Linked DNA regions of Homo sapiens. The protein of the gene in region 1 binds, or shares a complex with, the protein of each later gene. Each region holds a gene or a part of one and is shown in the gene's direction. Other genes may lie near its edges.

What was found.
Region 2: VIRMA (region 1) and RBM15 share a complex: the UniProt entries of both Homo sapiens proteins name them as parts of the WMM complex.
Region 3: VIRMA (region 1) and CBLL1 share a complex: the UniProt entries of both Homo sapiens proteins name them as parts of the WMM complex.

The regions. Positions count from the first base shown.
Region 1 is NC_000008.11:94,490,723-94,494,474, reverse strand, and holds part of VIRMA (protein virilizer homolog), read left to right. Parts: intron 1-1,656; coding exon 1,657-1,823; intron 1,824-2,565; coding exon 2,566-2,897; intron 2,898-3,752. UniProt on the Homo sapiens protein: Associated component of the WMM complex, a complex that mediates N6-methyladenosine (m6A) methylation of RNAs, a modification that plays a role in the efficiency of mRNA splicing and RNA processing.
Region 2 is NC_000001.11:110,342,225-110,345,976, forward strand, and holds part of RBM15 (RNA-binding protein 15), read left to right. Parts: coding exon 1-44; intron 45-3,314; coding exon 3,315-3,385; 3' UTR 3,386-3,425; intron 3,426-3,752. UniProt on the Homo sapiens protein: RNA-binding protein that acts as a key regulator of N6-methyladenosine (m6A) methylation of RNAs, thereby regulating different processes, such as hematopoietic cell homeostasis, alternative splicing of mRNAs and X chromosome inactivation mediated by Xist RNA.
Region 3 is NC_000007.14:107,742,065-107,745,816, forward strand, and holds the start of CBLL1 (E3 ubiquitin-protein ligase Hakai), read left to right. Parts: upstream 1-2,077; 5' UTR 2,078-2,099; coding exon 2,100-2,112; exon of another isoform or gene 2,113-2,245; coding exon of another isoform or gene 2,246-2,378; exon of another isoform or gene 2,379-2,773; intron 2,774-2,794; exon of another isoform or gene 2,795-3,331; intron 3,332-3,752. UniProt on the Homo sapiens protein: E3 ubiquitin-protein ligase that mediates ubiquitination of several tyrosine-phosphorylated Src substrates, including CDH1, CTTN and DOK1. Targets CDH1 for endocytosis and degradation.

The DNA.
Region 1 (3,752 bases):
GATTACAGGCCTGTGCCACCACGCCTGGCTAATTTTTTTGTATTTTTAGTAGAGACTGGGTTTTACCATGTTGGTCAGGCTGGTCTCAAACTCCTGACCTTGTGATCTGCCTGCCTTGGCCTCCCAGAGTGCTGAGATTACAGGCGTGAGCCACCATGCCCAGCCAAAAAAAAAATTTTTTTTTAATATAGATAAAGTCTCACTCTGTTACCCAGGCTGGTCTCACTCCTAGCCTCAAACAATCCTCTCTCTTTGGCCTCCCAAAGCGATGGGATTACAGGCGTGAGCCACCACATTTGGCCAGAGAATGTAACTTTTTTAAGGGAAAAATCACACTTTTGCATAAGTTCTATGAAGCACTTTGTTTTCTTACTTGACGGGGTATAGAACAGGGAAAAGTATCCCATAAAACAACAGTTTATTCTTGCATTTGGGTTCAAGGAGAGGAATGGTTGTGCTATGGTGTGGCTCTCAGTTTGGAAACTTGTGAAGAATGTATTTGTTATAGTATAGTATGAATGGGAATTGACATTCTTAAACATAATGCTGAATAGGTAAGAGTATAATTAACTATTTAAAATTTATTGCAGTCTGTTCTATGCTTCTCAGAGATGTGGTAAGGCGAATTATTTTAGCCACATCTTATTATACAGTACATTGTTCCTTTTCTTTATCAAAGAAACATACTGGTGTTCATCATATACAATAAAACTAAGAGAATGATTTGCTTCACATTTGTATTTAGTGTGTTGAGGGCTGCTTTTCCTTTTTTAAAAAACCACATACAATTCAATTAAAAGTGCATTAAAAATTAATTTCTTTTTAGTGCAAGCTGTTCAGTGGTTCTTTAAAACTGTCCTCTCCAGTAGAATTTTATGCAATAATGCAAATATTTTGTAGTCTGCCCTGTCCAAAACAGTAGCCTCATGTGCCTGTTGTACAATTGAAATGTGGATGACTAGGGAACTGAATTTTATTTTGATTTAATTTTGATTAATTTAGATAGGCACATGTTGTTAGTGGCTACCACGTTGGGCAGCACAGGTATAAAATATTTGTTAAAAGTTACTAATTTTTTAACTTTAAGTTGAATCACAACTGTCTTGTGATGATAATTGTAACCCTCTGGATTAGAGAAATTTTAGGTATCTTACATTTGATAAATTTGAATAAAACCTAAGTAAACTGAATGTTGATTTCCCTGAAATTAAACTTAGATGGGAACCTCATTAAATGCATAGAGCTTTTGGGAATCTGTGGCACAGAATCTTTTTGTAATAGAAATGTTGACTATATAAGGCTGGCAGAGTATGTTATTTTCAGATTCTTTTTTTGGAAAAGTTCAGGAGATATTACAGTGTTAATTTATATAGACAAATACTGAGTTTCCTGCTCAGGCATCAAAGTTCTCCTAGATTAATAGCCCTGCTTTGAAGAATGCCACACACAAAAAAAGTAGCATTACTAAGGTGTGTGTGTGTGTTTGTTTTTAAACTACCAATGCCATTTGCTTTTTGAAAAGATGAAAGAGGTAGATCTATAATTTATTTCTTATGAGAGGCAAATATAATTTATAGGTAATAAGAATTTCTGTAGTCAAATGTTATGCTAATAATTACATTTAATATGTGTTTTGTTTCATTATTATGACTGCAGGTAAAGGTTGACTTAATTGAACTCTCTGAAAAATGCTGTAGTGACTTTGATTTGCACTCAGAATTAGAGCGCTCATTTTTGTCAGAACCATCATCTCCAGGAAGAACCAAGACTACTAAAGGATTCAAACTTGGGAAGCACAAGCATGAGACCTTTATAACGTCAAGGTAAAATTTATTCCACTGAAGATCTCAAATGTCATCACATAAGCTTATGTATTTTAGTATATTTTAAGATAGACACATGCGGCCGAGCGCGGTGGCTCACGCCTGTAATCCCAGCATTTTGGGAGGCCGAGGTCAGGAGATCGAGACCATTCTGGCTAACATGTTGAAACCCTGTCTCTACTAAAAATAAAAAAAAAAAAATTAGCTGGTCGTGGTGGTGGGTGCCTGTAGTCCCAGCTACTCGGGAGGCTGAGGCAGGAGAATGGTGTGAACCCGGGAGGTGGAGATTGCATTGAGCCGAGATCACGCCACTGCGCTGCAGCCTGGGCGACAGAGCAAGACTCTGTCTCTCAAAAAAAAAAAAAAAGACACATGCTATTAAACTAGAAAGGAAATTAACATAGCATTCGAATCATGAACATTGTTTGAATTTTTTAAATTTAAACGTAATAATTTGGCCAGGATATACCCAGTACATTTGTTATATTGTTTTCTACAAGATTTTGGAAGGTTTGAATAAGAAGTGAACTGGATTATTTTAAAACATTGTTATTCATAACAATGAAATGTGAGTACTTTTCTTAGCTAGTTTGTTATATTATCCCAGAAGTATGATAGATACTTGCAAAGTTAGCAGAATTGGAGTACAAAAAAACTGAAATATAATTTTGGGTATTATAAAGATTATTTTTGCTAGAAACCTGAAAGAAAAATGTTTTATGGCATGTTTTTGTTTTAATAGTGGAAAATCTGAATACATTGAACCTGCCAAAAGAGCTCATGTTGTGCCACCACCAAGAGGAAGGGGCAGGGGAGGATTTGGACAGGGTATACGACCTCATGATATTTTTCGTCAGAGAAAACAGAACACAAGTAGACCACCATCTATGCATGTGGATGACTTTGTTGCTGCTGAAAGTAAAGAAGTGGTTCCTCAAGATGGAATACCTCCACCAAAACGGCCACTCAAAGTATCACAGAAGATTTCTTCCCGTGGTGGGTTTTCAGGCAATAGAGGAGGACGGGGTGCTTTCCACAGTCAGAATAGGTTTTTCACACCACCTGCTTCAAAAGGTAACTAATTAGTATGTATTTTCTAATGGGTTAGAATATTGGAATGTTAAAATATTGAATGAAAGTGATTTAGATGGAAGAGATTCAGATAAACAGTTTTCCTGTTGCTGCAGTTGAGCCACCTCTGGACTAGTGGTACTGTTTGCAGAGTACTCTATTGGATAGAAGAAAGAAACTTTTTTTCAATGAACCTTTCATGCATTGTACTTTTAATAATGAGTTTAGAAGTCTTGGCTAATTATTCCCCCCGGCCTTTTTTTTTTGAGACAAGAGTCTTGCTCTGTCGCCCAGGCTGGGGTGCGGTGGTGTGATCTCAGCTCACTACAAACTCTGCCTCCCTGGTTCAAGTGATTTTCCTGCCTCAGCCTCCCAAGTATTTGGGACTACAGGCATGCACCACAATGCCCAACTAATTTTTGTATTTTTAGTAGAGATGGGTTTTCGCCGTGTTTGCCAGGCTAGTCTCAAACTCCTGACCTCAAGTGATTCACCCCCCTTGGCTTCCCAAAGTGCTGGGATTACAGGCATGAACCACCGTGCTCAGCCTTATTTTCCTTTTTACATTGAGAATTATACATTTTCTGAGTAATACCCTTACATTATTTTCACAATTATACTTAACAGTTTTCTTAAGATTGTTCTGTGCAGTTCACCATTGATCTGCCTAATCTGCTTGTTTTCTAATGTTATATTTAGTCTGTTTGAAATTGTTACAAGATTTTTTTTTTTGGAGACAGAGTTTTGCTCTTCTTGCCCAGGCTGGAGTGCAATGGCGCAATCTCGGCTCACTGCAGCCTCTGCCTCCTGGGTTTAAGCGATTCTCCTGCTTCAACCTCCCGAGTAACTGGGATTATA
Region 2 (3,752 bases), on another chromosome or scaffold:
GGCCAAATCTGAAGAAGATTACCTGGTCATGATCATTGTCCGTGGTGCGTCCTAAAGTCCATGTGTAACTTGTATTTACTACTTTGACATGGTTCCTGTTTTGTGATGTGTAATGGGATACAGCATCAGATGCAATTTTCTTTTTAGTTGTTAGTTGTAGCATTTTCTTTTTTATATTTTTATAAACGTCTTTAAAATAGAAATCAGGACAGTTTAGCTATTTTTTTGTTTGTTTAGCTATTATTTTAAGTGAAAGGGATGCCCTAAAGGTAGCAGGCAGGCAGACAGATTTGCTTTAATTAGGAGTTCCCACCCTTATGAGTAATTTTTTTTCTCTATTCAGTTGTTTTTTTTTTAATCTTGAGCTTAAAAAATCCTCAGAGTTACAAAACCAAAATTTTGAAAAGTCAGAATTTGGAGAAAGGAGTCCACTGACCATATAAAGAGAGTAATAGCCACCTAAAAATGACTCGATTGGTGTGTAGGTAAATAATTCTTTTACCAGAAATGTGTGTGACTGAAATTTGATCAGGGATCTCAAAGATATGCTGGTAAATTGTATAGCAATGTAATTATTTTAATCAGGTATTTGAGTATTTCTTAAGATACAGTTTATTCCCAGAGAGTTTGCTTTAACATGCATTTTTTAAATCATTTGTTCTAGAGTTCTGTATCCCATATATGCACTTTTGGTTTGTAGCAGTAACTGTTCAGTAAAAATTAAGGACTATGTTACAAACCATATATGTCTTATGCTTACACTAGTATGCAAGAAGTGAGTAGGTGCTTTTAAAATCAGAATTCTTTGGTCAGTTATTGGTGTGTGGTGGTGTTTTTACTGACTTTTTCAGAGAGGTGTAGCAGGTACAGTTCTAATCGTGCATATTTCGAAACTAAGTGTTCTTCATCAAAGATGAGTTTTTGTTTTTGTATCAATTCAAATTTCTGGTTTCAATAATAGAAAGAAGAGTTGTCTGCAGGCTCATAGTCATCTTTTATTTCAGTGGGCATTTAAATCAGCCATATTTGGATTGCAGAATTTCTTAAAAAGTCATCATAAAATGCCTTTGACATGCTCTTTTAAAATTTTGCTTGTCTTTTTATTTTCATATTTAAACAGTAGTGACATTACATTATTGAAAATGTTTTGAACATCTTGGAAATTTTATGTTCAATATTCTCACTGCTGTCCAGCTACGGAATTGAAATGTCAGTGTAGGAAAACCTTTTTTAATTGTTTTATTTTCCCAGACACCCGGAATTAATACAGGATCATTTAACTTAGCCTCACAGTTTTTTTTTTTTCAAAGGTGAGATGATATCAACCTCTGGTTCTCAACAAGGACTTTTGCTGCTTAACAGTAATGGATTTTTTTTTTTTAATCTATCCCCTCTGTCCCACCCCTAATTTGTCAGGTCATTAGTAAGTATATTTTTCTCCCTTGATTTAAGTGCTGAAGACTTCAGCTAAGGCCCTTGATATTTAATTATGATTAGAGACTTTTGGACCTTCTGGATCATGGTCATGTTTCTGTTCTATGAAAGTGACTTAACTTGAAGCCTGGCAGAACCCAACTGTTTTCTTTCTGTTATCAAAGCTGGTAGTTTTGAAATAGCACCAATAATAACCCAGGGAAATGTCATGTAATTTTTATTTTCCATTATGACAGGTGTCTAATGCATGTCAGCACAAAAGTGTCATCACTGCTGTGTCATCCCTCTTGGTTTTCACTATGCATCTATAATTTTTTAAGTTTGCAGGTTTTGTGGGGGTTTTTGTTTGTTTGTTTTTAAACTGGAAAAACTAGCCATTTTGAGAGAAGGAAGGTTCTAGGCTATGAGCATGAAGGTCCTTGTGCCTCTTGGGAAAATACCTGAAATCCTATAATGAAGACTTTTGATGCTTCTTGCTTTCAAAAAGCTGTGGTTGGTTTGGAGTAGACACCTGTTCAGAAACTAATGCAAGTGTGGAGTCTACATACGTGGGCTCATAGTATAATTTGTGGCCAGCTACATTTTTCCAGTTTAAATAAACTCACTAACCATTAATTTTTGAATATCTTTTGTTGAGATAGTTGGACAAATGATTTTGCTCTTTTGGAGAGTGAAGTCCATGACATCTAATTTTACTGTCATCCAAAATGTGTGTTTTATTTCTTTTCTTTTACTTTCTTTTTTTTTGTTTGTTTTTTGTTTTTTGTTAGTGTGACAGCGTACAGAAGAGTACTGTGTTTTTGCTCCATGTTTGTTTGAATCTTTACCTGACATTGCCGCTTTTGTTAGGTCTGGGCAATTTGTGCTTCAGTGTTTTTGAAACAATGGCTTGATACCATTTCTAAATGTATGTATTATAAAAAACTAATTATGTTTAGTTGGTCATTACCTACAGAGTGCCATAGTCCACATGAACCTCATATTTGTACTGCCCATTCTTTTGTGCAGGTTCATAATATCCATAAAGTATCTAGTTAAACCTTAAGAATTCAAATGAAAGCAAAAGTCTAAAACCGGTTCTACTTCTCATTAGCCAGGATTTAATAATCCCAACGTTGAATGTTCTTTGTAACAACCAATTTTTTTCTATCTTTCTTCTTTAATTATTTTAATGTAGTTGATTTTTCTGGAACTCAGTTAAAATGAATGGAAAGAAAACTTCAGGATATCATTTAATGACTATTAAGTATTATTGGTAAAAACGTGAAGATAAGACTTTTAGATCACAGCTTCAAATTTTATGGAAAATTAAGCAAGCAATACCTAGCCAATAGTTCTGCTTAACTTTTTGGTTAAGTATTTTGTTGGGATTCCTATAAATAATTTTTCACACAAAGTTTTAAATTTCTGGTGTACTTTGACTCTCAACTGAGAGTGGATAGAGTTTTTCTTTTGAGGATTACATCTTAAAATGTCCATCGCCTGGCTGGTTATAAGCATTTGTCACCTTTTGAAGGTAAAATATACTCTGGCCCTTCTTGACTCAGTTACAGGTCATTTTAGGTCCAGTAATAAGAGTCAGGTGTTTGGTTATTGCTTTCAGAGTCAGACATTGTTTAGGTTTATTTAAAAACTATTAGCAGGTTTTCACTGACAATGCTTTTTTAAAAATAAAAAATGTAAATCCACTTTTTTAAGGCAGATTGTTCATTATGCATATACAGCTTGAACTATAGTTTGGGTCCATATAGGAACCAATCACCAAAAACTCTGGTAACAGAATTAGGAAATCCTCTTGAGAAGAGGGCCTTAATGACCTTTTATGTGAAAAAAATTTTGGAGAGAATTTCTGGACATTTTTTTTTCTGTCTCTCTCACAGGGTTTGGTTTTCAGATAGGAGTTAGGTATGAGAACAAGAAGAGAGAAAACTTGGCGCTGACCCTGTTATAGTGGTTATAGTGGTGTCCCTAAAGGGAGGAAATGATTTCAGGTAACCACAGTGAAATGTTAAGCTGAATGAAGAGTTTTATATGTATGGTTTAAACAGAGTTGAAAAGTGAGATTCCTGAAGTGTTCTTTGGCTGTTTAACAATTATTTGTATGAGTGTTTTATTAAAATAACGGCTGCTGTCTTTGGTAACATAGATGAGGGTGGATTTTTAAATGGCTTTGTATCGACCCCTTTCTACAATAATGGAGTAGTCTATGTTGCTCCATATAAATTACAGAATGAAAATAGATGGGGCAAAAGTTTGACTAAACTTTACCTTTTTATAGTTTCACTTTTTAAGTTATATTTAGAATATATTGATAGATT
Region 3 (3,752 bases), on another chromosome or scaffold:
TTTAATTCTAATTATTTAAATATTAGCATCAGCAGACATTAATAATACTATTCTGAACCTGGATTTCCATGAATCTGAAGGTTAACCGTTAGCTGATAGGCTAAGTATGATAGAACAAAAAAATCAAAGCCAGTGGTGGTGATGAGCATCTGTAGTCCCAACTACTCCGGAGGCTGAGGCATAAGGACCCCTTGAGCCCGGGAGTCCAAGGATGCAGTGAGCTATGATTCTGCCATTGTGTTCCAGTTTGGGCTGCCCCATCTCTAAAAAAAATTTTTTTAATATGAAAAAGAAGTACTTTCTAAGTGAAAACTTAAAAAAAAAAAAAAAACCCAAATTGGTGAAAAATGCCTGACTATATCAACACTGTATTTAGAAAAATAGGGAGGTATGGGAAAAAGGTTAGGCAAGCCCCAATGCCCAAAACAATAATCCCAGAAACTGAAAGCATCTTGAAAACCACCTAGCAATACAGAACTTTACATTTAAAAAAAGCAGGGGTAATTTTGATTCACAAATGTCCTTAGTTGTGAATGTACCTAAAAACTTGTTTATAAAGCTGCATATATAGAGCAGAAAAATCTTTTACAAGATCTCAGGAAAATAATCACCAAATAACATGGTGCACTTAAATCGCACTGATCATCACAGCATGATTCACAAATAATACCGTACAACTACAAAGATATAACACATCGCTACACATACTTTATTTGCAATTCAGTACCATGAAAACATTTCTCTAAGAGGTCAATGTAATAATCTTTTATTGATATAGGAACTCTGGCACTGAAAGCTTGAATAACCCAAGGTAATGATGTCGTCACCAAGGGAGGACAAGAATAGAACCCAAATCCCTTGACTCCCAAGCTTGTGTTTTCCATTAATTGTGCTCCTTTCTATTCATCCAAGAGCATCAAGTGTAAAAGGCTGGAGAAAGGAGTGGACACAAATGAGCCAAGTCCGCAAGGTGGAGACTGCACTGAAGGTCCTAGGAATCGCCCCTTGGCACTTTCCTTTTGTGTTGGCTGAGGAAGATGAAAGCAGCAACAACCACAAACTCCTGGGACCAAGAACTGGAACTAGGTACTGCTTGTTGTGGTAACTCTCTTCCTCATTTTAGGCCTTTCCTTTTTAACCTCTCCTTCCGGCCAAGCCTTCGCGCTCTCTTCCCCTCCCTCGGTTTCTATCCGCTCCCGTTAGCTCCACTCCGCACATTCCTGCAAGGTGTCCCCGTTAAGAGGAGGCAGCTGCGCCGCACTGGCTCTCCACCCTCCATCCGGCCCTGGCGCCCAGTCGTCAGGTGTTCGAGAGGTTCGTAGCGTCACAAGCGCTCTCCCTAGAAAGTGAGTGGCAGTCAAGCATTATAAACGTGTTTCAACTGTAAAGAGACTTAAGAGATGGGAACCGGGGCATATACCAAGTTAGCTCTGCGTGGGTCTAGGTAGCTCGTCACGACAAAGCAAAATTTAGACAAGCGTTGAGACTTTCCTTCTAGCTCCGAGTTTCACAGCTCCGCCATCCCCTGAGCAACCTCCCACTGGAGGGCGCCTTCCGGAGCGCGCGTGTTTACACTTTTGCTACACCAGGCGGAGGAAACAAGCGCTCGCTGACCCCGGGGGATTCCAAACCGTTACTCCGCCCGCCGGGGTGGGGCCAGCGCAACGGCCGAGCCTGCGCAGCCAGCCGGCTCCGGGGGCCCCGCGCACTACAAGTCCCAGAAGGCAGCTCTCCGCGGGGCGGGCAGTCGCCTTATCTGCTTCTGGCTCATTTTTACCACTGCTCTCCCCTTCCCCGGTCCCCCTGGTGTCCTTTCCACAGTTAAAGGCTACTTTCTCTTGAAGCACATGAGGAGAAGCCTTAGCAACCTCAATACCGAAGTTCTTCGCGCGCTCGCTCTTTCTGCCTCCGCCCGAACTATGCCTGAGTCCCTCACAGGAGTTGGATAGTAGAGGCGAGAGAAGGAAGTCTTTGCAGGCCAAAATTGGGACAACCTGCTTGGACTTCCGCCTCCCGGCCTCCGGAAGGCAGTGCGCACGCGCTCGCTGCGACTCCGGCGCGGTTGACTTCCGCTCCCACTGTGCTCTGCGAGCCGAATCATGGATCACACTGGTAAGGAGGCGGAGGCAGTGGGGGTCCCGGTTCCAAGCCCCCTTGGCCGGCCTGGGGCTGGTCGCACAGCAGGCAAAAGGGATTATGCTCGCCCCACAACACTAGGGTGTGGCAGTGAGAAGAAATCTCACAGATGCCTTCCTGTGCCCGGCAGGGGCCTGCGGTTTCCTGGCCTACCGTCTGGTGTGGTACCTACCTCCTCCGTGCCGGCAACAACCGCTCCTACTCTGGTTCTGCTGAGCTCCGAGCCCGGACCAGTGGGCGATGTAGGCCTTCGGGAAGGGAGAGCCCCGGCTCTGTTTTATTTAGCCCAGCTGCTCTGGCCTACGTTATGGAGACTGGCGGGTAGATTGCGGTCTCCGAGTCGCGGAATCCTCTTTACGCTGGGAGTGGACGGGCGAGAATGGGTTGGAGACTTCCTGCTGTCTCAGTCAGCTTTGGGCGGGTGCTGCAGTGGTCACCCCCTGTCGTCTCTCCGATCCTTTATGGACTAGAGGGGTGAAAGAAGGGAGTCTGATAGAGTTTTTGGAATCAAACTCGGAGCAGTTTTTCTACCTAAACCAAAAGCATGCCCCGCGCTTCGGCTGAGGTCCTTACTCATCATTTGAGGGTATTTACAAAGAGGAGTTTAAAATCAAGGCATTCTCATACTTTTCTCCAAGTAAGAGTGGCTCCACCCTTTGTTATGTATTTTCTGGCTTTTGCTTCTTTGTGGTTCTTGGATATTGAATGAGTGCTCTTGGAGTTATGTGCCCCATACATTTATAGCGACCGTATCACAAATAGAGAAAAAAAGGCTTTTTCTTGAGTATTGAGTTGTCCTCACTCATCAGATATCTACTTGGTTATATAATTAGGTGTGTATGTTTATTTATGTAGGTGTGTATGTTTATTTATGCAAGATACATGCAGATATCTATAGGTCGGGAGATGGAAGATGGAATGGTAAACGAGACGGACCAGGTCCGTGATAGAACTTCTGTTTTATGGAGGAACACAGACAATACGTTCTTTTTTTTTAAATTTATTATTTTTTTAATGTTTGCGGATTATTTTGAAGAAAATAAACGAGTGCTGTGGAGAGATTCATAGGACGAAATTTCAGAGAGGGTTGTTAGGAATGGTCTTTGTGGAAGCTAAGATCTGATGGATGAGAAGAACCCAGCCCTGGGAAAAAAGCAAGAGGAAGAGCATTTCCAGCAAGTGCGAAGGCACTGAGGTAGGAAGATACAGTGAAGTCAGCTGCAGCCTCCTAATAGCCAGAGGGTAGGAGTCCTGAAGTGAGATTGGAAAGGAGGGCAGCAGGCACATCATTCAGGTCATTGAAAGCCGTGGTAAACGTTTGAATTTTAATTTAAGTGAATATGAAGCCATTGAACAGAAGTGGAGGAGGAACACAGTCTCTTAAAAAATACAATAGGCTGTTCTATGAAGAATGGTGTAAGAGAGGGAGGTAAGAATGATGGAAAATAGCTGATTGCAGTAGACGGGAAGGGAAGGTTGGTTTGGTGAAAATGAAGGAGAATGGGCAGCTTCAGTAAATACTCTGGTGGTGTTTGAAGGAATGTGAGAGAAAGGAGAAATGCCTAGGCTTTTGGTTTGAGCAACTAGGTAGGGTCCATTATTGAGCTGAGGAAAAC